Regions from separate parts of the Homo sapiens genome. Here region 1 is linked to region 2. The links come from fine-mapping of genetic effects on gene expression. A gene starts in region 2. The other region holds a variant in brackets. All regions are shown on one strand. Distances are from middle to middle. Region 1 overlaps SCIRT (stem cell inhibitory RNA transcript). Region 2 holds the start of SCIRT (stem cell inhibitory RNA transcript).

Region 1 (15,903 bases), 64 kb before region 2:
CCTGCCGCCCTCTGGGACTGCCCCTCAGTCCCAGGAGAGCTATGAGGCCTCACTGGGGGCAGAACTTGGGGAGACCGAAGCCGGCCCTTCCACTCCCCTAAACCTACAGTCCTGGAAGGTCTCTGCTGGAAGAGACTGGGAGAGTGGGGAGGGGCCAGGGACCTATTTCGTTGACAGAAACAGTGAGGTCTATTGGAAAGTTAGCCTTCAGTGGGAGGAGTGGCAAAGGCACGCAGGGCAGCAGTACCCCCGTTTGGCACTTGAGGCACGGAGAAGGGAAGGGAAGTCCGCCCAGCCAGAACTCCCAGACCCGCTCGTTTAACAGTGGCTTTATGAGCAGCACGACGGACTCCCTCCCCTGGCGGGGAAATTACCTTCCTGCGAAGAAAGGTGACATCCCCGCCACAGACACGGAGGCCCCGCCTGCTGGCCAGCTGTGGCCGCCATAGGGGAGCTGGTGAGGAGTGAGGTGGCTCTGGCCTCCCATGTCAGGTAGGGTGAGAGAGGCCCTGAAGATAGAAGCCAGGCCCGAAGGCCAGAATTAAAGGGGTAGCTTGGCCATCAGCTCCTTCCCCCAAAACCAGGCTCAGAGCTCTCCTCTATCAGCAATTCTTTCCTGAGGTCCAGGGTGTTGCAAACTCATGGCCTTGGGCCACGTTTTACCTTCAGTGAGGTTTTGTTTGGCTTGCAATGAGTACATGGGTTTTAGGTTGAATGTGAGAGTCTGCAGACAATGTGGGTTCTCCGACTGCCCTCCCAGTGAAGGTGGACCTCTGATTTAGACCGGCCCGCTGGGCCCGTGCCTACATCCTTTTCCTCAGCGTCAGGATCTTAGTCCCCATGATTGCTGCCCCTTTGTGGTCTGCATGTTTCTTGGTAAGGGTGCCCAGTCAAGTGTCTCTGGGAGCCCCCTCTTCTCTGTCATCGTCAGGCTCCCCACTTGCAGTGGCCGTGGTGGCTGCACATGCTCCCGGATACCCCTCCAGCACTCCCTTTTGTCATCTTGAGTTTCAGTCCGTGACTTGGGTGGCACCCTATCTTCTCCATCAGGGATGGTAGCTATTTTTCTGCCATGAGACTAGAGGTTGCTTGAGAACAGGAAATTGGATCTCTCCCTTCAGGCTGGGATTTCACTAAGGGCTGGAGAAGGGGGGAATATGGGAGGATTATCTCCTATCACAGGGAGCGCTCTGAGGGCAAGGCTGTGTCTCCGATTCAGACTGACGGTTCCCTGAGGATGGGGCTGTTTCTCCCCTCCGACTGGGGCTCCCTGAGGATGGGGCTGTTTCTCCCCTCCGACTGGGGCTCCCTGAGGACAGGGCTGTGTCTCCCCTCAGCCTGGGGCTCCCTGAGTCAGGGCTGTGTCTCCCCTCAGACTGGGGCTCCCTGAGGACGGGGCTGTGTCTGCCTCAGACTGGGAATCCCTGAAGATGGGGCCGTGTCTCCCTCAAAGTGGGGCTCCCTCAGGACAGCGTTGTGTCTCCCCTCAGACTGCGGCTCCCTGAGGACGGGGCTGTGTCTCCCTCAGACTGGGGCTCCCTGAAGAAAGGGCTGCTTCTCCCTCAGACTGGAGCTCCCTGAAGATGGGGCTGTGTCCCCCTCAGACTGGGGCTGCCTGAGGATGAGGCTGCATCTCCCCTCAGACTGGAGCTCCCTGAGGGCAGGGCTGTCTCCCCCCTTCAGACTGGGGCCTCCCCCAAAGGACAGGGACTGTGTCTCCCCTGGGACTAGGTTCTTTGTGTCTTCTGCATCAGACAGATTCCCATGAGGACAGGGCTGTCTCCCCCTCCATCTGGAGCTCCCTGAAGGCAATGGCCTCTCCCCTCAAATGGGACATTTGCACCCCACCCCACCCTCTGGCTCCCCATGGCGCCCAGGCATTCCTCCCAGGACACCATTTGTCACGCTTTGATGAATGAAACTTACTAAGAATAACTCAGTCCTTGTAGACTCTAAAGGACAGGGGGAGGGAGAGGGAGGAGGCTGGTGATTGTGGGGGTGCTGGGGGAGGGAGGACACAATCCATTTATTCAATAGCATTTCCTGAGTCCCCAGCTGGGCACTGGGGGAGACACAGTGAGTGCCACAGAGCCCCCTACTGTGCCATTTCTGCCACTGACTGCCAGGGCAGACTCTGAGACAGAAAGTTCAGGTTCCTGCTTCAGAGCCTCCCCACCCCAGCAGTCATTACCTCAGGGCCACCCAGCCCCCTCCATGCCAGTCATGAGCTCCCTCTGCCCCTCCCTTCAGTGGAGGGGAGACTTTGAAATCAGGTGCTTGGGGGGGGGGCGCTGCTCCCAGTGGGGGTGTGAGGAACCTGGAGGATGAATCCCTGTCCCCCGCCCTCCCCCTACTCTATTCTTCCTTACCCTGCCCCTTTCCACTCCAAAACCTCAAGCCTCTGGTTCACATCTGAGTGACCTTTCCAAAGCAACTGTTCTCAGGGGGTCCTTGGGAGCCGGGAGGCTGTGACCTTAACCCACTTCTTTGGACAGTGCCTTCCTGGCACTCCACCCCCACCTGCCACCTCCTGAGAGGAACATTTCGGCTGGTCTTGGCAAAAACATCAGTCTATGATCCAGGCAGCCTGGTACAGTACCAGCTCTGCCACTGACACCACTGTGACCTTGGGAAGCCATTTACACATATGGGTCTCAGTTTCTCCATATGTAAAATGACTTTTGTTTAGCTTTCCTGATTTTCAAACCTTTTTTTCAAACAGTGAATCCTCTTGTTTAAATTGTAAATCATGTGGCATCTCTGTTCTCTGTGGTAACATAGGAAAAAGGTCGGGGGTTCTTTGGTCAAAATAGGGGTGGGCTTCATGCCCCAGCGGTTAGTCCATGACACACGAATGCACACATACGTGTGCGCACAGATCAGCTCCTGGGCACTGCAGAGTCCACTTCACAAACGTATGAACTCTGAAATCCTTTCCTGCTCAAACATTCTGGGACCCTGACAGGACCGGGAGCTCTAGAACCAGGGGTGCCGACAGCTCTAAGGAGGAGGCTGTGATTTCAGACCCCTGGGCCTGGGGCTGGGGCTTGAGCCAGCAGGAGTTCCTTTCCACACTTGGGTCCAAAGTCACTGCCTGGGCAAACCCTCACTGCTCTCTGCCCTCCCCACCCATCCAAGCCAGAGGTCAGATAGGCTTATCTGATGCTGAGCCCCCTTAGAGGGGTGGCGGGGGCCAAGTGGAGACAGAGTGTCCTTCATCAGTGGGGAGGGGCAGCAGGTTGGGTGGCAGGCTCTGGGAGTTCTTCTCTGGAATCCCTCTCACATGCCTCGGAGGAGGGTCAGAGTGGTAGGGTGGGAGGGCCAGCAGGGCCCTGCAGTGGCTGAGGGCTGGGGGCTGACCCCAGGAAGCCCAAGGCGGGCAGCATAGGTAGGGGAGACTCAGGGAGCTGCACCACTCCATCCACAAGTGTGAGAATTTGATACCAACAGGGAACGCAGGTAGGACAGGGCCCATCAGACACTGATGACAGGAAGGCAAGAGTGAAGAGAGGAGCAAGTACAGCCCAGGGAAGAAAAAAGTCACCAATAAGAGGCAGGCCTAGGCCTGGGCTCCCAGCTTGGGGCAGCAGAGCAGATCCCTTCAAGGGAGAAACCACAGATATGCCCCAGCCTCTCCTTGATGCTGTGAGTCAGGGGTGCTTAGAAAGGCTCGTGTTCAGTTCCAAATGCCCAGGGTCACCACGAAGGAGGTGCTGCCCCCTCCCCTGCACCCCAAGCAACCTGCATCTGCATGGCCCTGGAGAGGCCATTGCTCCTGATTTCCCTCAGGAAACATGGCCAGGGAGCTGCTGTGAGAGTTTTCCCCGAGTCCCCACCTCCCTGAGATGTACAATGAGGGAAGGGAAGAGGTATCTCACCGACTTCTGCCCTTCCATCTCAAACAAAGACACACACACACTCTCTCTCTCTCTCTCTCTCTCTCTCTCTCTGTCTCTCTGTCTCTCTCTCTTTCTGGCATTTGTCCCCAGAGAGTGCCTAGAGACTTCACAGCCTTGGCCCTGGAAACCCCTAGACAGCCGCTATGTTGCCAGGCACGGCTCTGGGCACTGAGGCTACAGCAATGAAAAAATCAGCCAAGTTCTCTGCCTTCATGGTGCTCACATTCTAGGCAGAGAAAGACAGATGATCAACAAGTGAAAAAATCATAAAGCTCAGGTCATGGTGTGGCAAGTATTAGAGTGGAGAGCGATGGGGTGGGGTGGGGGCGCTGTTTTATATGGGGTGGTCCAAAAATATCTTGGTGAGGTGGTGACATTTGAGTGGAAACCTGGACAGCAAGAAGCTAGTCGTGCTTTGGGGTCAAAAGGACTCCAAAATTTCAGTTTTTTAAATGGAAAACATGTGTTTACCCATAAACATTAAAGAGCAGGGAAATTAGAACTATGTTTCTGGAGCACCTATTATATGTCTAGCACCATGATGGAAAATTCATAGACATCATTTCCCACCGCCCTCTTCAGAACCCTGTGTGTCACATAGCATTGTTTTCATTTTACAGATATCAAATGAGAAATCCATAGAGATTATTTCACGCATTTAATAAGATTTATTGAGTATTCACCTCTGAAAACACTGTAATAAATCCCATACGGACCCTGCCCTCCTAGAGCCTACAGTCTGTGACAGCGAGGAGAACGGTCAGGGAGGGCTTCCTGGAGAAGCCCATGTCTAAACTGAGCCCGAAAGGATGAGGAGGGGGTGACAATTGAAGTGAGTTGGCGGGGCCCGAATTTTAGGCAGAAGGAGCAGCCTGCACAAAGGCCTGGAGCCTGGAGCACACGGCTCCCTGCAGTTACAGCAGGGAAGTGAGAGTCGTGCAGGATGGCCCAGCCTGGAGCGGGAGTGGGGCAAGCTAAGGCTGGGGGGTTGGCTGGGGCTGGGCAAGAGGGGCAGGGTAGGTCTGGACTTCCTTCATGGGAGACCATGCTACGAAAGGGTTATAAACAGAGAAGTAGCAGGGCCAGGTGTCTCTTTAAAAGGCTTCCTGTGGGGGCTGAGGCAAGGAGTGGGCTGGGGGCTGGGAGAGGGGGTGTGGCACCAGCAGCAGTGAGACTGGTGGGCAGAAGTAAAGGACTGAGGAGGGGGTCCTGGCCAGGTTCCTGAGGAGGCTGGGGTGGTGAGTAGGACCCTGCAGGCAGGGCGGATGAGCCACTTGGTGTGGCTGTTAGGCAGGGCAGGTGAGTGGAGCCCTAGCCAGAGCTCTGATGACCTGGCTACCTCCAAGTGACAGGGTTACCAATGGCAAAAGGTGGATGCCAGCCAACAGCGAGGCCTATCAGGCAATTCCTACAGGCTCACGCATTGTACCCACATGTACACACAGGTGTGTGCACACCACACAGACACACAAATACACATGCATCTGGCCCCACTCCCCCATCTGTATTGATAATGGGCTGGGAAGGGGCACGGGAGCCGGGGCAGAGATCACAGAACAGCAGCACCTTGCTTAGCTCAAGCCTCAGGCCCTGTGCACCTCTTTCTGGAGCCCCAGGGCAGATGCCATTCCATAGCTCGGGCCTGTAAGTGCCCCAACTCCTCATATTCCCTGAGAACCTGCTTGTAGGTACCTAATCTAGGATAAGCAGACTCCCTCCTGGTCACATTAACAGGGAATGCATCCCTGAGCTTCACAGCCAGCAGCAGAATCCAGACTCGGACAGACCCTGATGGGTGGAGGGAATAGGCCATACCAGAGAGATGAGCATTCACAGGACCAGCGCGAGGACTCGAACTCAAGGTGAGACACTCAACAGCTCAAACACAGTCTGGGGGAGGCCACACGTAAGAACAATTTGTGTGAACATTACTGGGAGGAGCCTTGCCCCTCAGGGAGCAATGAGCGTGCAGACTTGGGCTGCACTAATGGGAGGGCTGAGTCCAACCAGAGAGGGGCTGCTCCCTGGGCACCAAGCTGGCCAGGCCCTCCTGGAGCAGTGGGTCCAGACCTGGGGACCTCCTCAAGGGGACAGTGACAAAAAGAGTGACAGGGTGGGGAGGAGTCCAGAAACCCCATCATCTAAGGAAGCGCCACAGGGGTGTTTCACCCCAAGAAAGAAAGCCCTTTCTGTGGATGCTATCCCACTTTTACATGCTCTACCTGATGCCTCGCCCTGGTCTTGGGGTTGCACTTAATAGAGGCAGCTTTGCAGGTACCCATTTGGTTGATCTGTGGTGCCTCCCTAACTAGGCTGTAAGTAGCATGAGGTCAAGGGCTGTATATGCTTTTTACCATTGTTTTCCTGGTGCCTGTCCCATACTGGAAGCTCAATAACTGTCTATACATGGAAAGAAGAAGGAAAGAGGGAAGGAAGAAAAAGGAAGGAAGGAAGGGAGGAAGGGAGGAAGGGAAGAGGGAGGAAGGGAGGTAGGAAGGAGGGAGGAGGGAAGGAGGGAAGGAGGGAGGGAGAAAGGGAGGGAGGAAGGGAGAAGGGAAGGAGGGAGGAAAGTGGGGAGGTAGGAAGGGAGGGAGGGCGGAGGGGAGGGGAAGGGAAAGGGAAGGGGGGAAGAAAGGAAGAAAGAGAGTTGAGCATGCCTTGAATGCTCTGAAGGCTGCCATGCAAAGAAGGGTTAAACTGGTTCTCCAGGAGCAGAAGAAATGCCAGCAGAAGGTGAACTCAGGGAGTCAGTTTTTAAATCACCGACAGTAGGAAATCTTAAAAGTCAGATGGTCACAATGTCGATTGGATGATCCCAAAGGACTACGAGCTTCTCAGGAATGAGTTTAAGCAGAAGCAAAAGTAGCGCTTCACAGAGGTGCTGTTGCTTCAATGAAGGAACCAATGAATGGTGAGTGAAT[T/TAATG]AATGAATGAATGAAACTACCACTGAATACTACAGAGAATTTCACATGCTGGACAGAAGACTGGAGACCTCTGACGTTTGTCTCAGAAGTGAGTCTGTGAGACTGGCGCTATGCCAGACCCCAGGTAGGCAACGAGCCATGGGCCCTGTCCTCAAAGAGCCCAGTGAGAGATGCACGCAGCACACGCACAGAGGCAGAAAACACACTTTGAATCTCTCTAGCAACCCCAGACAGGTCATGCTGGAAGACATTCATAGCAGTGCAAGGAGAAGCGTCTTGAGAGAAGCTCAGCCCTGACTCCGCTCCCCATACCTTCTCAGCTTTCTCAAGGAGGTAACTTTCTAGAACCCCCTTTGGGCCACTTTCCCAGGGGTGACCCTTTGGCACACGTCTGTCCTGAGGTCGTGGCCTGTCTGGCAGCCTCCTCCTCAGGGTTAGGAGTGGGGTTGGCACCTGGCCATCCTGCAGAGGGCAGGGGTAGGTGCTTCAACAGCCCCAGCTCTGGGACATGTGCAGGTGCCCTAGTTCCAAGCCCCCACTGGCAGGTTCAGAAGACTGAGACACATGGCCAGGCCCTGACCCCTTGCCTGCAAGCTTCCTAAGAGCAGGGATCATCTCTTACCTGCCTCGGTCTCTCAGTGCTGGCACAGCATGGCTACTCAGTGTATGTGAGCTGAGTGGCAGAGTGCCAGGGCTGGCAGAGCTGCCATGAAAAGGGGTGCTGTGCTCAGGGAGATGGAGATGGGGTGCCTTCCTAGTAGGGTGCAGTAGCACTAGGCAGGGACTAGGAAGAGCATGCAAGTCCCCTGGGCCCCCTAAGGCCAGCACCGGGTCAGACTTGTCTTCTCTCCATGTTCAGGGTCTGCCCTGTCTCCAGCAGCCCCACTGTGGCTGGTGACCTGTCAGTGACTCACAGCCAGCTGTGGGCACAGAGTGGAGAAAGTGGCCTCCAGCTGAGCTCATGCACTAGCAATTAGCCCTCTACACCTCCTCACCATGGAGAGCCTCCCAGCTTCCACGCACGCACGTCCCAGGCTGCCCTTTCCCAACCGCAGCGTGGCTCTTGTGCTTATTTTAGCCTGATGAAGCCTCTTGAAATGTCAGAGCTGCAACCAACCAAGCTAGGGACCATCCAGTTGAATCCTTTCATTCAACCAGGGAGAAAATGGGGATTCAGAGAGGGAGTGAGAGATGCGCTTCAGGTCACACAGCTAATTGGTTGTGCAGCCAGAAATGAACTGCAGGCTTCCGGAGCCCAGATCCAGCTGTCCTTAACTCTAGGGGGCAATGTGCTTCAGGTAGCCCCTCACCAGACTTCTGGAGCCACTGGAGCCAGCACACATGTGTTTGAATCCTTCTTGGCCACTTGTCAGCTGTGAGACTATGGGCAAGTTACTCAGCATCTCCAGGCTTCTGTTTCTCCACCTGTAAAATGAGGATAACAGAGGCATGTCCCTCCCAGGTTGGTGTGAGGAATGAATGAGTTCATATATCTGAACTGCTAAAAGCAGTGCCAAGCACATAGCACACACTCAAAACACATTAGCTGACATTGTGTAGTCACCAAGACTTGGTCTCTGGTGTGGAAAGTTTAAAAATTCAGTTTTATGTGTTTGTCCATGGGTGAGCAGATTCTGGGACACCAGCCATATAACCAGACTTCTGGAAAACTGGTGGTGCTACTGTGGGGACAGGTGTTGCTGTCAGAAAGATCCACAGTAGACACAGAAACTGCCTTCCACTTTGGCAGTCACCATCTGAGACCCACAGATTGCAGACATCGAGGCAAAGGCAGTTTGGAGATTCTCAGGGCTATTCAAGCTCGGTGAGCCTGAAGAAGTGCCCTTCTGAACTCAAGAACTGGGCCTCTGTTTGTTAATCTGAAAAATAGGGGAAATCATAGCCTTGGGCTCACTGGGTGGTTGCAGGCATTAGATCAGGTGGGACAGTACCTGAAATAATCCTTTCTAGCCTTCCTCCTCCCTCTTTCTTTGTCACGACCCCCATCATCTGCTTGAGGCCAGTTCTCTCGATTCAGAGCTGCCTCCCCACTGGGCCCAGTTGGATAAACACTGACAAATTCTTCCCCTTCCAAGTTCCTCTTTTCCCAGTCACCAAATCTCTGATACCTCACACCAGATGAGTTATGGTCCCAGAACATGTACAAGATTGGGGTGTTCTCATTCCAACCCTGGAGATCCTTGTTGAATGGATGACTCAGTGAATCAACAACTGCAACGATTCCCAGAACTTCCTGAAAACTCACTCTGAGCTCTTAACATTGGGCAACACTCTGGTTTCCCCCAGAGCCCCACCACAAACCACCTCTGAGGAGAGGCGGCTCTGCAGTTGCCTCATCACTCTTTGCTGCCCTTCATCATGCTCATTTACACGAGAACTTTCTCTGCCCTTACTTCTCCACCACCCAGTCTGGACAACCAGGTGTGTTTGCATTCTCCCCTGCAGGAGGGCAACACAACCGTTCTGCTGTCCATAACCACTGCTGGCATGCCTAGTGGTCAGTCTTGAGCCCTCTCCATCTGCCCAAGTCACAACTGTCCCCCTACCCACCCCACCCAACTTCCTATGATTGCCTGCATAGGACAACTGACTCTTCTTGCTTGCTATTCCAGCTCCACTAATAGCCCATGACCCCCTCTTAGCCCCAGCCAGCCCCACCTGTAGAGTCCTGCTACGAGTGAGCCATTCCTCCCCAGGGGCATCACCTACTCGCTGCATTCTGTTCTTCAGGACAGACTGGAGCTCCCCAGACGAGAAGGCCTAAAGGGCTGGGAGCGGTGGCTCACTCCTGTAATCCCAGCATTTTGGAGGCCAAGGCGGGTGGATCACCTGAGGTCAGGAGTTCAAGACCAGCCTGGCCAACATGGCGAAACCCCGTCTCTACCAAAAAAATACAAAAATTAGCCAGGTGTATTGGTGGCGCCTGTAGTCCCAGCTACTCGGGTGGCTGAGGCGGGAGAATTGCTTGAACCCAGGAGGTGGAGGTTGCAGTGAGCCGAGATCACGCCACTGTACTCCAGCCTGGGCGACACAGCGAGACTCCATCTCAAAAAAAAGAAGGCCTGAGCCATTTGAGAGTTCATGCCCCTTTGAAGGCTGGGAATCTGAACACTAGTTCTGCCCTCAGGAGCCAGGATATGGCCTGGGCATCATCTCCAGCTTGGTTCCAGCTTATTCCCCACCATTGGCCCGCTGTCCAGCCCTCTGCATGTTTCTGGGCCACCAGTGGTCCCTACACGCCAACCAGAGGATTCCAAGAGTATCTCACCTGGAAGATCCTAAGGAATCACCCAGTCTAGTGGAGATGGTCTCTAGAGTGTTTGAAAATGTTTTGGAGTCTTTTTCATTGTAATAGTGATTAGAGATGTTCTGGCATTGGGTGCCCCAGGCCGGGCATGCTAGATCCCACAATGGACAAGGCAGTTTGCATAGTGAAGCATTGCACCCCTATTCTCCTTGGAGAAACACCACTTCTAGTCCAAAGTACTTCTTGTACAGTTGTAGAAACTAAGAGCCAGGGAGGATAAGGTACTGGCCCAAGACTAAGCAGCAAATTTGTCTCATAGGTATTCTAATAATGAGGATCCAAGAGTTCTGTTTCTTGGTGATTTCAATGGTATCTAGCCTCAAAATCCACTAGCAGTCACCAAGTTTGGGGCATGATGGGAGAGATGAAGACTAACGTGAGTCATTGGGAAGACTTTGTAGAGGTGTCATTTGGGCTAAGCTTTGAAGGATGACTTGTGGACCTGTCACTCTCGAAAGTGGGAGAGGGCACAACAGACAAAATGGTCAATAGTGGGGAAAGGACTAGAGCCTAGGAGTGAAGGTGGCTGAGGAATGAGCACAGGCTTTGGAAAGGAGAGCAGTGGAAGATGGAGGATGAAAGGAAGGTGACCTGAGGCTAGATCACAGAGGACTTTGCGTGTCAAATTGAGTATTGGGGTTGGTTCCAGGACCCCTGCGGATACCAAAATCTTGGAATGCTAAAGTTCCTTATATATAATAATGTAGTATTTGCATATAACCTATGCACATCCTCCTATACACTTTAAATCATCTCTAGATTACTTATAATATCTAATACAATGTAAATGCCATATCAATAGTTATTATGCTGTACTGTTTTTATTTGTATTATTCTTATTTTGCATTATTTTTTGTTGTTTTTTCCTCAAATATTTTTGATTTCCAGTTGGTTGAATCTACAGATATGAAACCCACAGATATAGAGGGCCAGCTGTATTTTGAGGCCAAGTTATCAGGTGCATACAAATGTAGAATTATTACATCTTCATGGAAAATTGAACATTATATCATTGTGAAATGTCTGTATATCTAGCAATGCTCTTTGCTTTAAAATCTGTTTAGTCTGATTTTAACATAGCTGCACTAGCTTTTTGTTTTTGTTAGTGTTACATGTTTTATCTTTGACTTTTACTTTATCTCTATATTTCAGGTACATCTATGTACAGGGTGTAGCTGGATTTGGATTCTTTTTTCTTTTTATGAGACAGGGTCTTACTCTGTTGCCCAGGCTGAAGTGCAATGGCATGATCACACCTCTCTACATGCTCACTGCTCACAACAGGCATGCATCACCACGCCCAGATAATTTTTGTATTTTTTGTAGAGATGGGTTTTCTCTATGTTGCCCAGGCTGGTCTGTAGCTCCTGGGCTCAAGTGATCCTCTCACCTTGGCCTCCCAAAGTGCTGAGATTATAGGCATGAGCCACTGTGCCAGATTTGGGTTCTTATCCAAAATAAGTCTGAAAATCCTTGCCTTTTAATGGGAAAAAATAGTCATTTTATATACGATGGAATTACTGTTTATTTGGACTTAAACCAATACTAAGTGCTATGTGTGCTACTTACCTATGCTCCTTTTTCTCTCCTTTCTTTGCCTTCTGTTGGAATTATTTTATTTAATTATCCCCCTTTTAAAATGTGGAAGTTATTCACTTTTTTATAATTTTTTAGTAGCCACCCAGAGATTACAGCATGCCTTTTTAACAAATCCTAATGTTAATAGATTCTTTTACTCTCCCCAAAATAAATGCAAGAACCTTAAAAACCTTAACTCTTCCCAAACACCATTATTATTATTATTTATATGTAGCATATATTTGCTATTTATCCACATGTATACCATTTTCATTGCTCTTTATTCTTTCTTGTATCTCTATTCTTCCATTTAGAATTATTTTATTCTGCCAATAAAATGTCCTATTAATGCAAATCTGCTGGTAATTAATTGTCAGTTTTATTTTTCTAAAAATATATTTCTTTCACCTTCCTTCTTGAATACTTTTTTCTGGGCATTAAATTATAGGCTGCCCATTTTATTTTAGCCCTTGTAACATTTTTATTTATGATAAGAAATGTATATAGTCATGCACCACAAAACAACATATGGTCAATAACATACAACATACTTAACAGCAGTCTCATCAAATTATAATGGAGCTGAAAGTTCCCATTGCCTACTGACATCGCAGCCATCATACGACATAGTGCCTACTGACATTGCAGCCATCATACGTCTTAGTGCAGCATGTTAGTTATGTCTTTGTAGTGATGCTGGTTTAAACAAACCTCCTGTGCTGCCAGTCACATACAAGTATCGCACTTAAAATTATGTACAGTACATATTTGATAATGTTCATAAATGACTGTGATACTGATTTCTGTATTTACTGTACTATACTTTTAATCATTAGAGTATAATCTTCCTACTTACTAAAAAAAAAAGTTAACTGTAAAACAACCTCAGGCAAGTCCTTCAGAGGTATTCTAGAAGAAGGCATTGTCATCAGAAGAGAGGACAGCTCCATGTGTTATCAGCCCTGAAGAACTTCCAGTGGGACAAAGTGTGGAGGTGGAAGACAGTGATATTAATGATCTTGACCCTGTGTAGGCCTAAGCTAATATGTGTGCTTGTGTCTTCATTTTTAACAAAAAACTTGTAAAGGTTAAAAACAATTTTGACAGAAAAAAAGTTACAGAATGAAAGTATTTTAAAAGAAGGTATTTTTGCACAGCTATAAATGTGTTTTTGTTTTAAGCTAAATGTTAATACAAAAGAATCAAAAACTTTTTAAATTAAGTAGCCTATAAAGTTAAAAAGTTACTGTAAACTAAGGTTGATTTATTACAGAGGAAAGAAAATTTTAAAAATAATTTTAGTGTAGCCAAAGTATACAGTGTTTATAAAGTCTACAGTAGTATACAGCAATGTCCTAGGCCTTCACACCTACTCACCATTCACCCGCTGACTCACCCAGAGCAACTTTCAGTCCTTTAAGCTCCATTCATGGTAAGTGCCCCCTGCAAGTGCACCATTTTTTATCTTTTATGTTGCATTTTTACTGTACCTTTTCCATGTTAAGATATGCAAATACTTACCATTGTGTTACGATTGCCTATAATATTCAGCACAGTAACGTGATACAAAGGTTTGTAGCCTAGAACCACATAGCCCAGAATAGTAGGCAATATCATCTATATTTGTGTAAGTACACTCTATGATGTTCACACAATGATGAAATTGCCTAATGATGCATTTCTCAGACACATGACTATATTTGGTCTTCATCCCAGTTTCCTGGCACACAGCTCCTAAAACCTTTGGAATTTCTTAAGTGATAAGTATCTTTTGTAGCTAATGAGATATCTGGTGACTGGGGGCTTCTGGATAGCCTCAGGATGGGGCTGGTTGCCGGGGGAACCAACCATGTGATTAGTCTTGTAATTTTCAGACCCCCGCCCCAACTTCTGGAGAGGAGAGAAAGGCTGAAGGTTGAGTTGATCACCAAAGGCCAATGTCGTGATCAATCATAAAAACCCAAAGGGACTGGATTCAGAGAGCCTCCAGATTGCTGAACACATGGTGGTTCCTAGAAGGTGGTGTGCCTGGAGAGGACATGGAAGTCTACACCCCTTCCCTCATACCTCGCTTTGCGTAGCTCTCCCATCTGGCTGTTCATCTGTATCTTTCAAAATAATTCTTTGTGATAAATTGGCAATAGTAAGTAAAGTGTTACCCTGAGTTCTGTGAGCCTCTCAAGAAATTTAATTGAACCTGAGGAGAGGGGAAACCCCCAATTTATAGCCTGCTAGTCAGAAGCATACCTTGCAACCTGGCACTTGTAATTGTCATCTGAAATGGGAGGCAGTCTTGTGGGACTGTCCTTAGACCTATGTGATCTACATTAACTCCAGTTAGTGTCAGTATTGAATTAAGTTAGTGTCAGTATTGACACTCAATTGGTGCCCACTAGAGAGCTGATTGTTGGTAGGGAGAAATCGCCACATATATGCCAGAAGTGTTCCATGTTGAGAAAAACACTTTGTTCTTTTCCATTTCATATGGGGCTCTAAAGAATTCCATCATATTCTGGCTTCCATTGTTTCCATTAAGAAATTAGCTGCATGACTAATTGTTGCCCCTTTGAAGGTAATCTGTTTATTCATCTAACTATTTTAAAGATCTCCTTAGCTGGGCGCTGTGGCTCAGGCCTGTAATCCCAGCACTTTGGAAGGCTGAGGCGGGTAGATCACTTGAGGTCAGGAGTTTGAGACCAGCCTGGCCAACATGATGAAATCCCATCTCTACTAAAAATACAAAAATCAGCTGAGCATGGTGGTGCATGCCTGTAATCCCAGCTAATTAGGAGGCTGAGGCAGGAGAATTGCTTGAACCCGGGAGGTGGGCAGATCACGAGGTCAAGAGATCGAGACCATCCTGGCCAACATGGTGAAACCCCGTCTCTACTAAAAATACAAAAATTAGCTGGGCATGGTGGCGCATGCCTGTAGTCTCAGCTACTTGGGAGCCTGAAGCAGGAAAATCGCTTGAACCCAGGAGGCGGAGGTTGCAGTGAGCCAAGATCATGTCACTGCACTCCATCCTGGGTGACAGAGACTGTCTCAAAATAAATAAATAAATAAAAATTTTAAAAAATAAAGATCTTATCTTTGATGATCAGGTTTTAGTTTTACTCTGATAGTAAAGGTATACTCTTTAGTTTTACTCTGATAGGCTTAGGTGCCGGTTCCTTTTTATTTCTCTTGCTTTAGGTTATTTGGGCTTAACTGAGTATATGGATTGATATCTTTCATCAGTTTTGGAAAGGTCTCGGCCATTATCCCTTCATATATTGTTTTTGCCCTATTCTCTTTCACATTCTAACTGCTTTCTTTATGTCTTTTAGACTCTCTTCTATATTTTTCATTCTTTCACCTTTCCATGTTTCATTCTGGATATTTTTTTTCTCTTTTTTTGAGATGGAGTCTCACTCTGTCACCCAGGCTGGAGTGCAGTGACATGATCTCGACTCACTGCAACCTCTGCCTCCTGGGTTCAAGCGATTCTCCTGCCTCAGCCTCCCAAGTCGTTGGAACCACAGGAATGCACCACCACACCCAGCTAATTTTTGTATTTTTAGCAGAGACAGGGTTTCACCATGTTGGCCAGGCTGGTCTCAAACTCCTGACCTCAAGTGATCCACCCACCTCGGCCTCCCAAAGTGATGGGATTACAGGCGTGAGCTACTATGTCTGGCCTGGATATTTTTTCTAATCTAGCTTCTAATTCAGTAATTCTTTCTTCAGCTATGTTTCATATACTTTTAAACCTATCCATTGAATCCTTAGTCTTGGGTATTATAATTTTCAGTTCTAGAATTTTAATTTTTTTAACAAAGTTTCAATTCCCTGCCAAAATTCTCAAACCATGTCTATTTCCATCATGTATTTTTATCTCTTTGAACATAATAAGCATTGCTGTTTTTTTAATTATAAAATCTGCATCTGATAATTCCAACATCTAGAACCCCTGCTGTATATGCTTTTATGTTTGTTCATGTTGTCCAGTCTCATGTGTTTGGTTTTTGGTGTTGGTTTTGGTTTGTTGTGTGTATGTGTGTGTTTTATTTGTTTTTTTGTGAGTTGTTTTTGTTTGTGTGTGTGTGTGTGTGTGTGTGTGTGTGTGTGTTCTGGACATTGCAGGTGCAAAGTTGTTTGTAGAAATTATCTGACACCAGGATGACATCTTCTTCCA
Region 2 (15,903 bases):
CTGTAGCCACCTGGATTAGCAGAGGGAGAGGCCTCCTACCCCAGTGGGTCCCTGTGAGGGGGCAGCCCGACCTTACAGTGTATACATTTGGTAGTGAAGGAAGCAGGAAACAGCTGGACAGGCCTGGGAATCCCTCCCCACTCCCTAGTCACCTTTCAATACGAGGAGCTGGGCTTTCCCAGCCCTCTATCCCCTACTCCTCCCTGCCTCCTCTTGACCTCCTGTGCCTTTTTCAGGGAAATAAAACACAGAGCCATGTGGAGATTGGGGCTGGACTTCTGTGCTCTCCTTTTTCCGTTGGCAACCCCATCTCCAGGCTGGCAGGATCAGAGTCGGTGCCTCCCACCTAACACTGACAATTGGGCATTGCCATGGCTGAGGGCACCCTAAGATATCAACCCCATTACACAGATGGGCAGACTGAAGTCTGAGGCTGTCACAGAGTCAGGACAGATCATGTCTTGGAGGTGATGCAGCCAGGCTTGTGGTCAATACCCACTCTGCCTGAGTCAGGGTAGCTCCTCTCTCGGCCAGACTGTGAGCTCCCTGAGCTCAGGGACTGGTCCCCAGCTTCCTGAAAGGGGTTTGCTGGGTAGGATTGAATGAGGGCTTGCTATGTACTGACCTGTGCTGGTCCTGGGGTGGGGTTCTGTGTCCCCATCAGCCTAGCCAGTTTAGCTGCAGGGCCTCCTCACCTCTGGACCCTTCCTTGACCACAGGTCTCCCTAGTTAGTTCCTGGAACCCAGACTTTCGGTGCCTGGGGAGGGAGGGTCTAGGGTGGCATGGGCAGCTGTGCATCCAGGCCAGAATGGGCCACCTGGAGAAGTCCCCAGGGCCTGGTGCAGGAGCCCGCTCCCCCAGCTGGCAGAAGGACAGGTGGAAGCCCACCTGCTGTCCCCCGCTTCTGGGTCACAGTCAGTTGGCTGAGCTAGGCCCAGCTTGGGCAGGTTCTCCCACATCCAGTGCCCCCTCCCCCTCACCCCACCCTGGCCTGATCCCTTTTTCAAGTACAGTCTTTGCTCCAGCCAGATGTCTGAGCACAGTCTTGTTCCCAAGAAACCCATGCCCTGCCCCACAATCTCTACTCATCCTGCCCTCTCTCCCTCCTGTCCCCATAGGAGCCATCTCCCCAGGGCCACTGGCTCACCACACTTCCTGCAGAGCTTTGACCCTCTAGGAGAGCAAGCCCCTCCCCAGGCCAGGGAAGGGTCTCAGCAGAGGCAGCAGGGAAGGGGCAAGGATCCAGCTTCCCCAGTAACCTAGCATGCCTCTGTCTTCCAGCAAGTCACCAAACCACTCTCCTATCTGTCCCTATTGTCAGCCTATCCCATCCCTCAAGGCAGCAAGTTCTTAGGTTGGCTTCCCACTGTGTGGGCAAACACGCGGCCTCACTCTTACTGGAAGCCAAGACTTGCTCCAACTGGGCTCGGCAGGAGAGAGTTCTCAAGAAGCCCAACCCTCAAATACATACTCTGTAACCTAGATGGAGGCTCTCACAGAACCTGCCAGAGGCAATCACTAACCCTGCTTTACACACCTAAAGGTAGCTTTTTAAACTTTAAAAAATTTGTGATAAAATACGCAGAACATTTACCATTTTAACCACATTTAAGTGTACATTTCAGTGGCATTAAATACATTCACATTACATACGTTCACATTACATATGTTCACATTGTTGTGCAACCATCAACACCATCCATCTCCAGAATTCTTTTCATTTTACAAAACAGAAACTCTGCTCATTGAACACTAACTCCCCATCTCTCCAGCCCCTGGCAACCACCATTCTACTTTCTGTCTCTATGAATCTAACTACCTTAGTTACCTCATTAAAGTGGAATTATACAATATTTGTCCTTTTGTGATTTGCTGATTTCACTTAGCACAATGTCCTTAAAGTTCATCCCTGTTACAGCATGTGTCACAATTTTCTTCCTTTTTAAGGCTTAATAATATTCCATTGTATGTATGTACCACATTTTCTTTCTCCATTTGGGTAGCTTTTTTTATTTATTAACTACTTTTTTTTTTTTTTTTTTGAGACGGAGTCTCGCTCTGTCACCCGGGCTGGAGCACAGTGGCTTGATCCCGGCTTACTGCAACCTCCGCTACCCAGGTTCAAGCGATTCTCCTGCCTCAGTCTCCAGAGTTAACTACTTTTTAAAAAAACCAAAGTAATATATTCTCGTGGCAAAAAGTCTGAACAGTTCAGAAACACATAAAGTGAAAAGTGGACTTTTCCATCCCTTCTCACTCTGGTCATGGAAAGCCCTTTCTGGTGACTCTGAAATTTTAGAGGCAGAAGGGCTAACTGGTTTTTATCCATTTTTTACACATATAGTGACATACTCCTCATCAGTACTTCTCAAACACGAGTATGCATCAGAATCATACAGAGAACATGTTAAAACCACAGACTGCTGGGCTCCAGCCCTAGTGTTTCTGATCCCGTAGTTCTACGGTGGCCCAAGATTCCAGGTTTCTTTTTTGTTTGTTTTTTCAGACAGGGTCTCTCTCTGTCACCTGGGCTGGAGTGCAGTGGCACCATCTTGGCTCCCTGAAACCTCCACCTCTCAGGCTCAAGCGATCCTCCTGCCTCAGCATCCCTAGTAGCTGGGACTACAGGCTAATTTTTTGTAGAGAGGTTTTGCCATGCTGCCCAGGCTGGTCTTGAACTCCTGGGCTCAAGCAATCCTTCTGCCTTGGCCTCCCAAAGTGCTGGGATTACAGGCATGAGCCACTGCAACTGGCTGAAGATTCTGGATTTCTAATAGGCTCCATGCCCATGCTGGCAGAGGGCACACCCTTCATGGAGTAGCACCACCCAAGGAATGTCTTGCCACTTGCTTTTCTACTTAGTGAATATCAACACACAACCTCAACCTCACTCTTTTCAACCACTGCATACTATTGGTGTTTGGAGGCATCATAACATATCCAATCCGTGCCCTATTAATGGACTTAATGTTGCTTCCAGTTTTTCAGGTTTGGAAGCAAAACTGCAATGAACACACTTGTATGTATACTTTGAACACTTGTGACATTTATAACAGTGCATCTGATAAATTCCTAGATATGGAACCCTCGAGTCCATGGTTTGTGAATTAATTCTTCTCATGTATACTGCCAATCCCCTTCACAGGTGCAACTGTCCTCCCCCCCAGCTCTGAGGATGTCTGTGTCCACACAGTGAGGGGTTGCCCATTTTAGTTGTTGTCAATCAAATTGGCGAAAAGAGAATCTTCTCATGTCTTCATTTTGATTTCTTCTATTTTGACTGAGGGTGAGCATTTTCACCTGCTTGTTAACCATTAGTATCCCCTTACCGGTTTATGTGCTTTGCCCATTTTTCTATTCGTTTTTATTTTCCTTATTGACTTGTAAAAACTCATCGGTCATCTATGTTAAAAATATTTTTTCCAGACGGTTGTCTTTAGAATTCAGGATATTACATTAAAAACACATTTTTTTTTCAGAGATGGAGTCTCACTGTGGTGCCCAGGCTGGCCTCAAATTCCTGGGCTCAAGTTATCCTCCCACCTCAGCCTCCCAAGGAGCTGGGACTACAGGCATGTAACACAACACCCTACGTCATATTTTAATACAGCCAATTTTAAAAAATTCTTTCCCTTTGTGACTCCTAGGTTTTGTGTCAAACTTTCCCCAATCCAAGAACATACACTTTTAGACTTTCAGATGTTTTCTTCTAGTAATTTTATGGTTTCCTTTTTACATTTAAATCTTCACTCCATCGGGATTTATTTCAGAATAAGAGATGAAGTGGGGAGCTGGATTTCTTTTTTTTCCCCCTTAACAGCTAACCAGTTGTCCAATTTGATTGAATAATTCATCTTTTCTCCTCTGATCTAAAATGTCATTTTATCATATATTTAATTTCCATTTGTTCACGGGTGTGTGTCTGGCCTCTACTCTGCTCCTTTGATCTGCCTGTCTGTTCTTGTGCCAGTACCCAACTATTTTATTATTGGAGCTTTCTACAACATTTTAGTAGCACTAGTCGTCCCTTATAATACTTCTTTTTCAGGATTTTCCAAGCTCTTTTTGCATGTTTATTTCTCCAGATGAACTTTAATATAATTTGTCAAGTTCAAAAGATCTCGTTGTTTTTCACATCTTCCAACAGATGTGATTTTCGGACATCTCAGCCCACAGCCAAACAGAAACAAGTTGAGAATAGGGTGGGTTTGGTGGTCTGCCCTGGAGGCAGGCAAAGTGATGGTAACAGAAGTGATAGTTTATACGGAGAGAGTTGATGAAGTGATAAAGTACTATAAAAGTAGACACAAGAACTACGAAAATGTAGCCTTCATGGAATGAGCCGTTGGTGTGGGGCCAAAAAAGGCCTTGGATTTTCACTGTATTACAACCAGGATACTGATGGACCCTTGTAACCACAACCCTGAGTCATGAAGACTCACATGTTCTGTAACCTCTGATTAAAAGCCCGGAAAGCGTGTAATATCCACTAGTGATTCCTATCCAAAATATCTCTTTTTAAGGTTTCAGATATTAATGTCTGGAAAACTAGTATGAAATGGTTCATTCTTGGATGGTGACATAAACATGACATGTTACTGGCCTCTTTACAGTTTTCTCAAAGCCCACCTTCAAATTCCAAGGAGCTGCCAGCTCCGGGATTTGAATTCACTCTATCCATGGAAACAAAGCTGAGGGAAATGTCCCCAGACTTTCAGCCAGTTCAAACACAATAATAAAAAAAGGTTTACCTCATACATGCCTCCAACATATGAGGCATGTTATAGGCAGATTATATTTTAATCCTCAACAGCCCCGCTGGGTGAATGCTGTACTCCCATTACACAGAAAACTGAGGCTCAGAGGGGTCAAACAACTGGGGCCAGTTTAAGTTAGTACGTGACAAAGAGCTCTCAGCTACCTCCACCTGCACATTCCACAGACCAGTCCCCTTCAGTTCACTCCCACAGGGAGGTTCAAAACACCACCGACCCTATTCAGACATCCCTTTGCAAGGCCCTGTCACCTGTCTTGCCCAATGCCCACCTAGCCAGGAGAGCCAGGATGCACAGTGAGGAAGGTGGAATGAGGTGCCAACGTAGCCCATCCAGGGAAGGAAGACAGCCCCCCCCCCCCGGCCACCCACTTGCCAGTGGCCCAGGTGGCAGGCCAGCCACTTGCCAATCCCCTTCCTGATCAGGGATTCAGGAAGTGAAGAGAGTGCCCCTGGAAGTCAGGAGACACCTCCAAGATGAAGGCCCTGCCTGCCATAGCCTGACACAGCCTCCCTGTACTCCCTGGGTTGTCCCAGGACGCAGACTCTGTGCTTACCATACCACACCTTTGTCAGTGGTGTGGGCAGGGCCCAGCAGAGTCCTGGACACCCCAGGGAGTAGGAGCTGTGCAGGTAACATAGGAGGGGGTGAAAGGGAAATGAACTCCCTTGGGAGTTCCCCATCCCAGAGGAAATAAAAGTCAAAGCACTCCTTTGTTTTTTCTTCCCAAGCCCTTATAAGGGGCTTTATGGGGCTTGCCTAGGTTTGAGGTGCAGCAGAGGCAGGCGGGTGAGGGCCTCCAGGCTGAGAGATCCTGGGGCAAAAGTGAAACTATATGGTCATGAACACGGGCATGTTCTGAACTCTGTGAAACCCTAGCCCAGGACCTGGCTGACTGTACAATCCGTCACCCGGCACACCGTAACAGAAGACCCTACTACGCGCAGAGGACAGTACTATTGGGGTGGCAACTGAAAAGGGTCCTGGCTGGAGGCGGGGTTTGCTGGAGGGGTAACAGAGCGTGCGCGGAGTGGAGAGGGTACGGAGGCTCACCGCCCAGCATCCCCAACCCCGGCGCTCAGAAGAGCAGCGCGCTCCGGAGCTCGGCGCGCGCGATCAAAGCCGGCGCCGCACGCGCACGCGCGCCCGCAGCCGCTCCCCCGCCCGCGCCGCTCCGGCTCCCGCGCGCGCGCACTTGAGGCCTCCCTTGTGCGTCTCCTCCATTCGCTACGTGCAGAATGGTCCGTCGGCAGCAGCTGCAGCGCTGGGTGGGAGGGGGAGGAGGAGGGGAGGGGGAGGCGGCGCCCAGGTCTCGGGGAGGGGCCGCGGCGGCCCTGGAGATAGAGGGGTGGGGGCGAAGGGGTGGGCCCCCGCAGCGGGGAGGACAGAGGGAGAGTCCGGGTGGGCTCGATGCTCAGCCTTCCCCCTCCCCCGCTCCCGCTTCTTTCTGCGAGGCCATTACGGCCATCTCCCGGCCTGAGCCTCCTGGAACCAAGCCGACCAAGAGGGGTTTCCTCCGTGTTGTCTCGTCCCCAAAACCCAGAATCCAGACCCAAGAAAGAACCACTCCTGCTGACCCCTCCTCCCGCTACCCGTCCCAACCGCATTCCCAAGCTTTCGTGGAGGTGACCCAACAGCAAGCACTTCCCCACTCCGCCTTTCATGGGGTGGGGTCCCTAAGAGGTACTGCAGACTAACTCCTCTTTTCATCTCTTACCCCACCTGGAGGAAGAGGCATGGCCAGGATGGACACCAGAGCACATTTCCCAGCATTTCCAAGGGGAAAGGGCAGCATCTCAGCATGCAGACTCCAACATGGCCACAGAAAGGTCGAGTGGCGCAGAGGAGCAGGCTGCTGCCCAGGCCCCTAGGGCCACTTCCAAAGGAGTGTGACCACGACTAGGTTGCTGTGGACTCACTCGCATTACAGGGCTGCGCCCTATACACCTGTTTGTAAAGGGTCCTCCTAGAATGTAATGGTGAGGGACCACCAAGCGGTGGACCAAGAATTCCAAACAGACCAGCTCCCTGCCTTGCCAGGAAACCAGATGTGGCCCAGATGTCCATAGCAGTTCCTCCCACAGGGTGGGACACCAGCTATTCTGTGCAACCCCTCCCAACCCTTCTTCCAGGGTCAGGGAGGAAAGCTGGCAACCTCCGTTGTCCCTTCCCATTTGGGTTGCTAGAAGGGAGCAACTCACTCATCCTCCTCTTCCTGCCAAGAGCCACCTGGGCTTACCTCTCCAGCAGCCACCTAGGTTCAACCTGTGGTCTAACCTCAAGCCCTCTGCTGACAGGTTAAGTCAAGATCGCCGGGAAGGAAGGCGTCCAGTTTCATTACACACACAGACGTACACACACACCCGACACCGACCCACGCGCCTGGGCTCTGCACAGTGGCTAGACCCCAAAAAGCCGATTCTCCTGTTCCCTCCGTGGTGGCCTCAGTCTTTTGGCGGCGCCCTCTGCTGGCCACTAGGAAGTGCAGGAAAAAACAGTCTGCCCATAGACGCTTGGTGGATCTGGGAAAGGGGACAAGAGGCAGAGAAACAAGTGAAAAGTGGGAGCTGAGAGCAGCGCTGGGCTGGCCACAAACAAGCGAGGCATGGTGACGCCTTCCTGGAGGTGGGGAGTTTTGAGCCAGCTTTCCATGGGCCTAGGGAGACAAGCCGAGCTGGCAGATAGGGGCTCAGGACACCCCAGGAGTGGCCCTTCCTGTGTGCTGAGCCCTACCCCTGTCCTGGATGGCTCATACACCCACTAACTCATATGGCTGCTGTGCCCTGCTTGGGAGTCCTTCCTGTCAGCCTCTATTGGGGTGGTGGGTGGGGAGGAGCAGCCATGGAAACCCTGATCCTTCTAGTCATAGTCTGGCTCCCTGGGGCTGTGAGAGGTGTCCCCAAAGAGAAGCCTCCAATTGACAAACCTCTGCTCCACCCCACCCCACATACACAGAGGATGGCCCAAGCCCAGGTCCCTGGCATGGTGGGGCAGGGGCCTGAGTCACAGCCTGGCGTGACCCTGCCCAGTCCCCAGGAATGGCCAGCTCGTCCAGAGGTGAGACCCAGGTCAACAATCCATCAGTCTGCCTCCTGCCACCAGGTATCCTCCCCATCACGTCCTACACGTGGGGTGGGCCAGGACAGTGCTGGGCAGAGCTAGTGTTGGGCCTGTGCCTGGGGGCCACCAAGGGGGCCCGGAGAAAAGAATGGAGGGGTTTTCACTTCCTGAGCAGCAGGAGGAGCCAGCTGGGGTTAAAGACAGGAGGGACTGGTTGGGCCTACAGGCATTTGGAGTCTCTCCCTGCCTGCTGGGTGAGGGAGGCAGCAGGTGCCAAGAACTGCTAGCTTCTAGGACCTGACCCTCAAGTTGCTTCTCCTGCTGAGGGGCTTCTAGGGTCACCCTCAGGGCCTTGACATCTGCACACATCTGCACAGGCCCTTCACCAGGGACTTAACCTCCAAAGGCAGCTCCTGCTCCCAGCCTTCACAGGCCCCCCTAGGGCCCAAGTCCCCAGACCCAACCTCAGTCTGCAAGCTGGCCAAGTCAGAGGTCCTGGCTGCCTGGACCACTCCCAAGCAGTAAATGGCACTGTGGGCTTCCTCCATCCTGTCTTCCCCGCCCCACTTCATTGATTCACTGACTTCCAACTTACTGGTCAGGCCCCCTTCCAGACCCTGCCTGGATGAAGAGGACTCCCAGAAGCAGTGATTGAAGGCCTAGGAGGATACAGAGAGCCAGGTGCTTTAATTGGAGGTAATTAGTTAATTTACTCTGAAAGCAATGGGGCAGGGCGGGGACAGGGGGAGGAGAGGGGAGGGGAGGAGGTAGGGGGCTGTGACCTAACTGGGCTCAAACTCTCAAACTCTGGTCAGCCTCCTTCTGGACCACAGCAAACCTGTGTGTACCCACCCACTTAGGAGACCCTCTCCTGGGCCCCAGGTCAGAGCAAGACCCAAAGTGGACTAGGGTGGCTCTGCAGAAAAAGCAGGTGCCCTGGGGTGGTGGGAACAGGCCTTTTGAGGTTAGGGAGGTGTGGACTGGCATGAGGGAATTGGAGAGGTGCAAGGAGCTCTGGGATGGGAACTGGTCCCTCTCCTGTCACGTATAATTCCATCCCTCCCAAGGTCATTGCTGTCACCCAAGTTAGGGGCCCAGCCCCCTCCTTTGGTCAGTGAAGTCCCAGGGCAGCCCATTTTAAATACAACGGGGCCTGAAGGCTAACTTCTGGCCTTCCTGCTTCGGGAAATCATTCCAATAACCGGGAAAAAAGGGGGCCCGAGGACAGAGCCCCTGCCGGGCCCCAGGGGGAGTGTCGTCGGCTCCTTTGCGTCGCCGGCCGGCGGCGTGGCGGGGACTCTGGCCGGCAGCCTCCCGCGCCGTCCGGAGCAGCTGACCCGCTGGCGGTGGGCCAGGTCGCGGCGGGGCCTGGAGGCAGCAACGTGCGGCGCGGCATGTCGCGGGCGCCGCGGCAGGGAAATGTGGGGGCGGGCCGGCGCGCCCCCTCCCCCCCGCCTACGCTGGCCCATTCATAAAACCTGCAGGCGCTGCCCGGCCTGGCAGCCTTGGTCTCCTAATTGCAAACTCATTAAGGAGTTTGCATCTCATTTGCATGGAAATCATTTCCTGGCCCTAAACAGAGAAACTTCCCGCCCCTCCACCAGCCCCTCTCTGCCCTGCTTTACCCATGCACAGTCTGGGAGAGGAGAGGGGGCATATCTCTGACCTGCGCCCCTTCCCTGGCCTCACCACCACCCTCCCACTTTAGGAGTTGGGGAAGGGATTGGCAGAACACCCACCCAGCCAGGAGCCCTGCCTGTGCCCCAGGTGAGCCGGCCCTGCCCTAGTGGGTCCAACTGAGGGGAGGTGCCTGCCAAGTCATTTGCCCCCCGGCCTGGCCGTGCCCAGGGAAGGGAGGAGGCGGTCGGCAGTTGGCCCCAGCAGCTGGTTGTACCTGGCAGGAGGTGGGTGAGGCTTTTCGTGCCCAGCCTCACGTACGTGCCCTGCCATAGGCCGTGCCCCCACCCCCACACCCCTCACCCCACAGAACAAGCGCCTAGTGACTGCAGAAACAGACACCCAGTCATGGCACACAAAGGCACCCACACCAGGCCAGCCATCATGGCTGCCCCCCTGGCAGCCACCCTGGAGGGCAGACAGATGCCTTCACAAGCCATTTTGTCTTTCTCCAGCTTGGTGCCAGGACTGGGGGTGGGGGAAAGGGTTTCTCCTGAGACTTCTCTGAGTAAGGGGGCCCACAGAGGGGTTTCCTTATGTACCCCAGCTGTGGCCTCTTGCCCCCTCTCTCCTGTAACCCATGTTTACAGAGGCCTCCAAGTGCTCTACCCTGCATGGGGACCTGCCCAGGCGAGGGGGTCACAGGAGCCTCCAACCCAGGAGGGGAAGTGAGAGATAAAGCCCCTAAGGAAGGGACACCTAAGTGCCTCCCCAACCAGGGTCTGTCCTTCGTGTCCCAAGTGTGTGTAGTGGAGGGAGTGCTCCCCAGTTTCCTGGGGGTTGAGGTGGGGCGGTATTCTAAACCTTTGGAAATGGAATAGAACTACCTAAAGTATATGAAATTAGATACTACTTGGGACACTATGTCTTGGTTCTGTATGTCCTGGGACAGTGTAAAAAGTGATCACAAAATTTTCAACATCACAGTCTAAAATAAAAACCTGCCTCTTGTCTGCCTCCTCAGACATAAACCTGCTTACGCTTCCCATCTGCCCACACTCCCACCTGCTGTATCTGAAGTTTCTCCCTTCCTTTGCTAGGGCATAAAGGGGTGGGCAAGGATGTTCTGGAACACTGACCACACATCCGTCCTGAGTATGGCTGGACTGACCCTACCCTCCCAGCTCCTGGAGCAGTTGGGTTCCAAGTGCCATATGTGTGCGTGGTTCAGGGGTACTGGAAGAAAGTTTTAGAATGCCTATTTATTTTTCATCGAATCCTTTTTTCATTTAGTGTGAGTGTGTTTTACAAGGTAAACTATATAAAAACATACTCATCTGACGGGTGCGTACTCAACAATCTTTTTTATTGCTAAGGGCACATGATCAAAAAAACTTCGGAGGTCACTGGCCTAGACTTCAGGTGGGGCAGCTGTGGGCAGGGGATGGCTTGTCTTGTCCATCTAAGTATCCAGCCTGACACATGACTAGTTCAGAGCCTGGCAGGGAGCAGAGGTCAGGGACACAGTATTGAATGAATGAAGTCCACCCCTAGAACTGACAGATGAGGAAACTGAAATAATTCTGGGGCGGGGAGATTGCTCAGAGGAGGACATGGGCAGGTTGAGAGAGTCTCCCCTCATTGCTGCTATGTCTGCAGCCTGCCCGTGTCCAACACCCAGCACCCACACAAACCTTACTTCTACCCACCCCAGGGAGCACAGCTCCCTCCTCTGCCTACCAGCAGAGTGGCCACCTGTCTTGAGCTTCTTACTGGATCCTGATTAGCAGAGCCAGACAGGGTTGTCACCTGCCATATCCCTCTACGTGGCAGAAAGTCTGTTGCCAGCTTTGTATCCTAGAACTCTCTGGAAGTCAATCTGGTGTAGGAGAAAGAATTTAGGCTCCAGACAGGCGTCAGTCCTCATCCAGCTTGGTGACCTTGGGCACAACACATAACTGGTATAAGCCTCAGTTTCCCAATCTGTATCTTGGGACCAATATTTGTACTTACTGTACAGAGTTGTTGTGAATGTTGAGTAGCCCACTGTGTGTGTAGGCTCTGGCATATACTAGGTGTTCAGTAAGATTCCTGTCCCTCTGTGTGCAGCAGGTGCCCCATGAAGAATCTGTTGAATTGTGATTTGACATCAGCATGGGAAGGAGAATTCCGAAGGCAGACAAATGAGCCTTTGCTCCCTCCTCTGCCTGCTGGCACGGTGCCCACCAGTCTGAGTTCTGTCCTGCACCTTCCTGCAGAAATGAAGCAGCCACTCTGGCAGCCTTGGGTCCCCTCCAGGCTCATCCACTCTGTGGTGGGGTGTCCTCCTCCTTTTCTCCCTTACAGCTCCTTTCCCTTTTTCTGTGCTGCCTTCACTTCAAGCATGAGCTGAGGGTGACTCCTGGTGGCCATTCATATAACTGCAGAATCCTGACCATTGTCACCGCCACCTGGAAGTGCATGAAGTCGAGTGTGCAAGGAAGCCATTCTTCACACTTTCCCTACACCTCCCAACTCCCTGTCAGGGCCCTGGGGAGCCTCAGGGGTGGCCACTCCCCGGGGACTCCACCCTCCGAAGTTCCACCTCTAAGGGCTTCACTTGCCTGATGGGTGGGGACGATCAAGGAGGCCTCTGCCCAGATCCTGCAGCACCAGGCCTGCCCCAGGCAAAAAGCAGGACAGTGGCTACTCTTCCCTCAAGTGCCACTGAACACTTTGCAGGCATCATTTTGTCCAATTCTTATCACTGGAGCCCATTATCACAAAGAAGAAACCAAGGTTAAGCAACTTGCCAAGGGTCACACAGCTCCTCAGTGCCCAAATGGTGAAATGAATACAGGTGACACTCAGTGGGACACCAGACCAGCCCCTGGGGGACAGAAGAGGCCTATAGGAAGGAGCCTGCCATGGGGTTAGAAGCCTCAGATTCTGACCCGACCTTGCCCCAACTAGTGGGGTGGCCTCCATCAAGGGCCTCTGCTCACTGAGCCTCAGCCTCCTCGATGGCATCATGGGGCGGAGGACAGAGCAGGATTCTCAGATTGGCTGTACATGGGAATCACTGGGAGGATTTTTCAAATACCCATGTTTGCCCAGCCCTGACTAAGGAAATCAAAATTGGTAGGGGTTGGCTAAGACAAAGGTAATTTTAAGAAAATATTTCTAGGTGATTCTATAGGCAGCCAGGGTTGAGAATGGGTCCTCTAGGAGTTCCCCATCTTCAGACTTCCCAGCCCTCTAGAGGTCAGCTCCCCAGGGCTCCCCTCTGTCCTAAGGGCTCTCCAGATAAACTTTTTTTTTTTTTTGAGACGGAGTCTCGCTCTGTTGCCCAGGCTGGAGTGCAGTAGCGCAATCTCAGCTCACTGCAAGCTCCGCCTCCCGGGTTCACGCCATTCTCCTCCCTCAGCCTCCTGAGTAGCTGAGACTACAGGTGCCTGCCACCACACGTGGCTAATTTTTTTTGTTTTTTTTTAGTAGAGGCGGGGTCTCACCGTGTTAGCCAGGATGGTCTCAATCTCTTGACCTCATGATCCGCCTGCCTCAGCCTTCCAAAGTGCTGGGATTACAGGCGTGAGCCACCGCACCCGGCCCAGAGAAACTATCTTAGCTTGTCTACCCAGACCCACAAGAAGCTGCCTCCCAACCACCCAAGGGGACACAGGCCCATCAACCCTTTCCAGAGGGGGCACAGTAGGCTTGAGACTCTTGAGTCTCTGACCCCCAGCCTGGCCTCTGGGGTGGGGGGAGAGAAAGTCATAGGGAGCTTAACCTCAACAGGATGAAGGCGCCATAATTAGGGTCAGGCGGTTGGCTCAGCCTGCGGAAATCCCCAGCTTAGTAGGGATGGGGAGTGGCACTGCAGCCTGCGGGAGGGTTCAGGGCAGAAGTGAGGGGGCAGGGGGAGCCCAGGCACATGGAAACCCAGGACCTAGGCCCCAATTGCATCCTGAGAGGGCCCACTGGGGGCTTCTCAACACAGTTCACTCCCTCCCTGGGGTTGCTGAACCCCAGGGAGGGAGGGAAAGGCTGACCAGCCCCCCAACCCCAGAGACCCTACTGCTCCCTCAGGCTGGGGTGCATCAGGATCATCCCCCTACCCCAGCCTTTGTCAGGAGGAGGAGGGCACCGGTGGGAAAAGGCTACGTGAGTGTTCCCAGGGCGACCCAGGCTTTTCTCCTGACTGTAATCCTCAGGCCTTGAGAGAGGGATCGCTTTCCACTGTGGAATGTAACAAAGGGGACAAAATGGGGCAGGGGAGGGGGGCAGAAGCCAGGGAGGGAAGCTTGCAGGGTGGTACTTTTAGCCCCCAAAAGGCCCTCCAGGAGGCAGCTGCACAGAGAGAACCCCCCTGCCCCCATGACTCCCTGAGCCTGTCATCCAGCTCACCCCAGGGCACAGGGTCTCATCCTGGGTTGTCCAGGTGTCCCCCCGCAGACTCCTGCCATGAATCCCAGTGCAGGGGGATTTGGATGATCACCTTTGCCAGCCACTCATTTTGCAGGGGAGGAAATATTCCAAGAGATGAAAACTAGCCAAGACCACGCAGCACCAGAACCACTCCCAGAAGCCCCGGCTTCCCCAGAGACTGCTTCAGTGAGCCGGCAAAAACTGAAGCCTGCAGCCTCAGGAGTTCCCACACACACCTAGGCCAGAATCCCTCTGCCCCGCAGCAGGACACCCCTCCCTCTTGCCCTCCAGGGTCATGGGCTAGACATGGCAAGGTAAGCAGAAGGCAGATGCATACTAGTCCACACAAGCTTGTGACGGCTGGGACTAGGGGCCAACCTAGTGGCTCCCACGTTGAGAATCAACGCCAATTCCAGGAAGCCTTCCCGGCTAACCCCCAAAAAGCTGGCAATACTTCCCTCCCACAACACAGCCTTGGCTCTCGAAGGCTGTCCTCTCCCCCAGCCTCACTCTGACTCATCATGTAGGTCCCGCATGGGCCTCAGTTCTCCTGGCCATGGGCTCTCCCCATACCTTAACCTGGGAACCGTTGTGGGCAGGACCATGTGGGACAAAAAGGTCCTGTGCCCAACCCAGCACCAATCACAGGGAGGCCTGGGGATAAGCAGGGGCTCTTGGAAAGGGGGCAGAACTCAGCTCAAGTCACAGAACCTGGGAAGGACCTTCAGTGGAAAGCCGCTTCAAATGTCATCTGGGATGAGCATGGTGGCTCACACCTGTCGTCTCAACACTTTGGTGAAACTGAGGCTGGAGGATTGCTCAAGGCCAGGAGTCGAAGACCAGCCTGGGCAACATAGCAAAACCTTGTCTCTCTGTGTATTTTTTTAATATTAAAAAAAAAAAATTTAAGGTCATCTGGTCCAGTCCCTCGTGCCTCCCAGTTGGGAGGCACTGAACTTCTCAACACTGCAGAAACAGGCATCTCTTCATATATTTAGTCATTCAGTCATCCATCCAATGAACCTTGCCCAACTATCTTCTACATCTCCGCAGCCCAGGCAACCCAATCCATTCTCAAGGCACAGACTAAATCCTTACCAAATAGAGTCAAGGGTCCATCCATTTCCTCTCCTGGGCCTAACATGGTGCTAAGTGGAAGTAAAAGGTGCTGATCAGCAACGGCCACCCACTTTTATGTTGCACGGTGGCATTCTCACCTGGCTTGCACATCACCAGGTGATGTTCATTTCAGACTCAGCCACCATTCCAGACAGGTTGTCCCTCACTGGCAGATGGGAAGCTGAGGCTGAGCAGGTGAAATGGTCTTGCAGCTGGAAGAAAGGTAGGGCCAGGACTTGGCCCAGGCAGCTAAGCTCCCAGCCCCAGATTCATTTTACACACCCACTCCCAGCCCTCCACCAGCTTGGGTTTCATGTGGAAACAGGATTTCCCCCGGGGGAATGAAAATTTGATTTTGGCCCCTAATTATAAAAATAATAACAGTGAAGATGGATCAGAGGCCTGCTGGTCTCAGTGCTGTGCTGATTTTGCTAAATGCACAGGTGTCAAGTGTTGCCCACAGAACCCCCCACCCCTCCTCGGGGCCAGGCTCACAATGCCCTTGGCTGGCACAGCTGCACATGCAGACACACACGCACGCACACACATGCATGCATGAGTCCCTGCACGTCCCAGGAGATGTGTCCCACCCCCTTCATTCCCCTCTGATAACCCAGCAGCTTCCAGCAGGACAGACACGTACCCTTCAGGCTGGCCATGTCAGGCACGTGCCAGACCAGCTGCCAGGGCCCAGAACCTCAGGCCTGCTGGGCTCTAGAAGGTGACTTTCTCCATAGCTGACCCTGTTCAACCTCAGGAAGGATGATAACTCTCCGGGATGTGAGGGATGTGAGACCCCACCCAAACCCTCTGCGGAGTCAGTGTCCATGCAAGGTAGGGTTTAATGAGAAGCCTCAGGGAGCCCCCCAGCTTCCTGTGGGCACCCAGCCCCTGCTGGAGTCCTGGGGAGAGTGGGCATACTCT

What was found. PIP is the estimated chance that this variant, and not a neighbour inherited with it, causes the effect.
Region 1: its variant is the best candidate, but not a certain one, in a credible set for the expression of SCIRT in putamen (GTEx, PIP 0.56).

Annotation. Positions count from the first base shown.
Region 1 is chr6:44,003,212-44,019,114 of GRCh38, forward strand. All of the region lies in intron 1 of SCIRT (stem cell inhibitory RNA transcript), which reads right to left. LINC03040 (long intergenic non-protein coding RNA 3040) reads left to right here. Exons shown (of 3, transcript NR_160956.1): 3 at 1-4,401. Among named protein-coding and RNA genes, the nearest start is that of LINC03040, 11 kb to the left of the region's middle. RefSeq lists enhancers at 1,371-2,002, 7,021-8,220 and a silencer at 7,311-7,509. The variant T/TAATG (reference allele first, on the strand shown) is at 6,821.
Region 2 is chr6:44,067,482-44,083,384 of GRCh38, forward strand. SCIRT (stem cell inhibitory RNA transcript) reads right to left here and starts at 7,171. Exons shown (of 5, transcript NR_125864.1): 1 at 7,016-7,171. RefSeq lists enhancers at 5,582-5,641, 5,682-5,781, 6,802-7,061, 8,182-8,251 and silencers at 5,862-5,941, 6,032-6,291.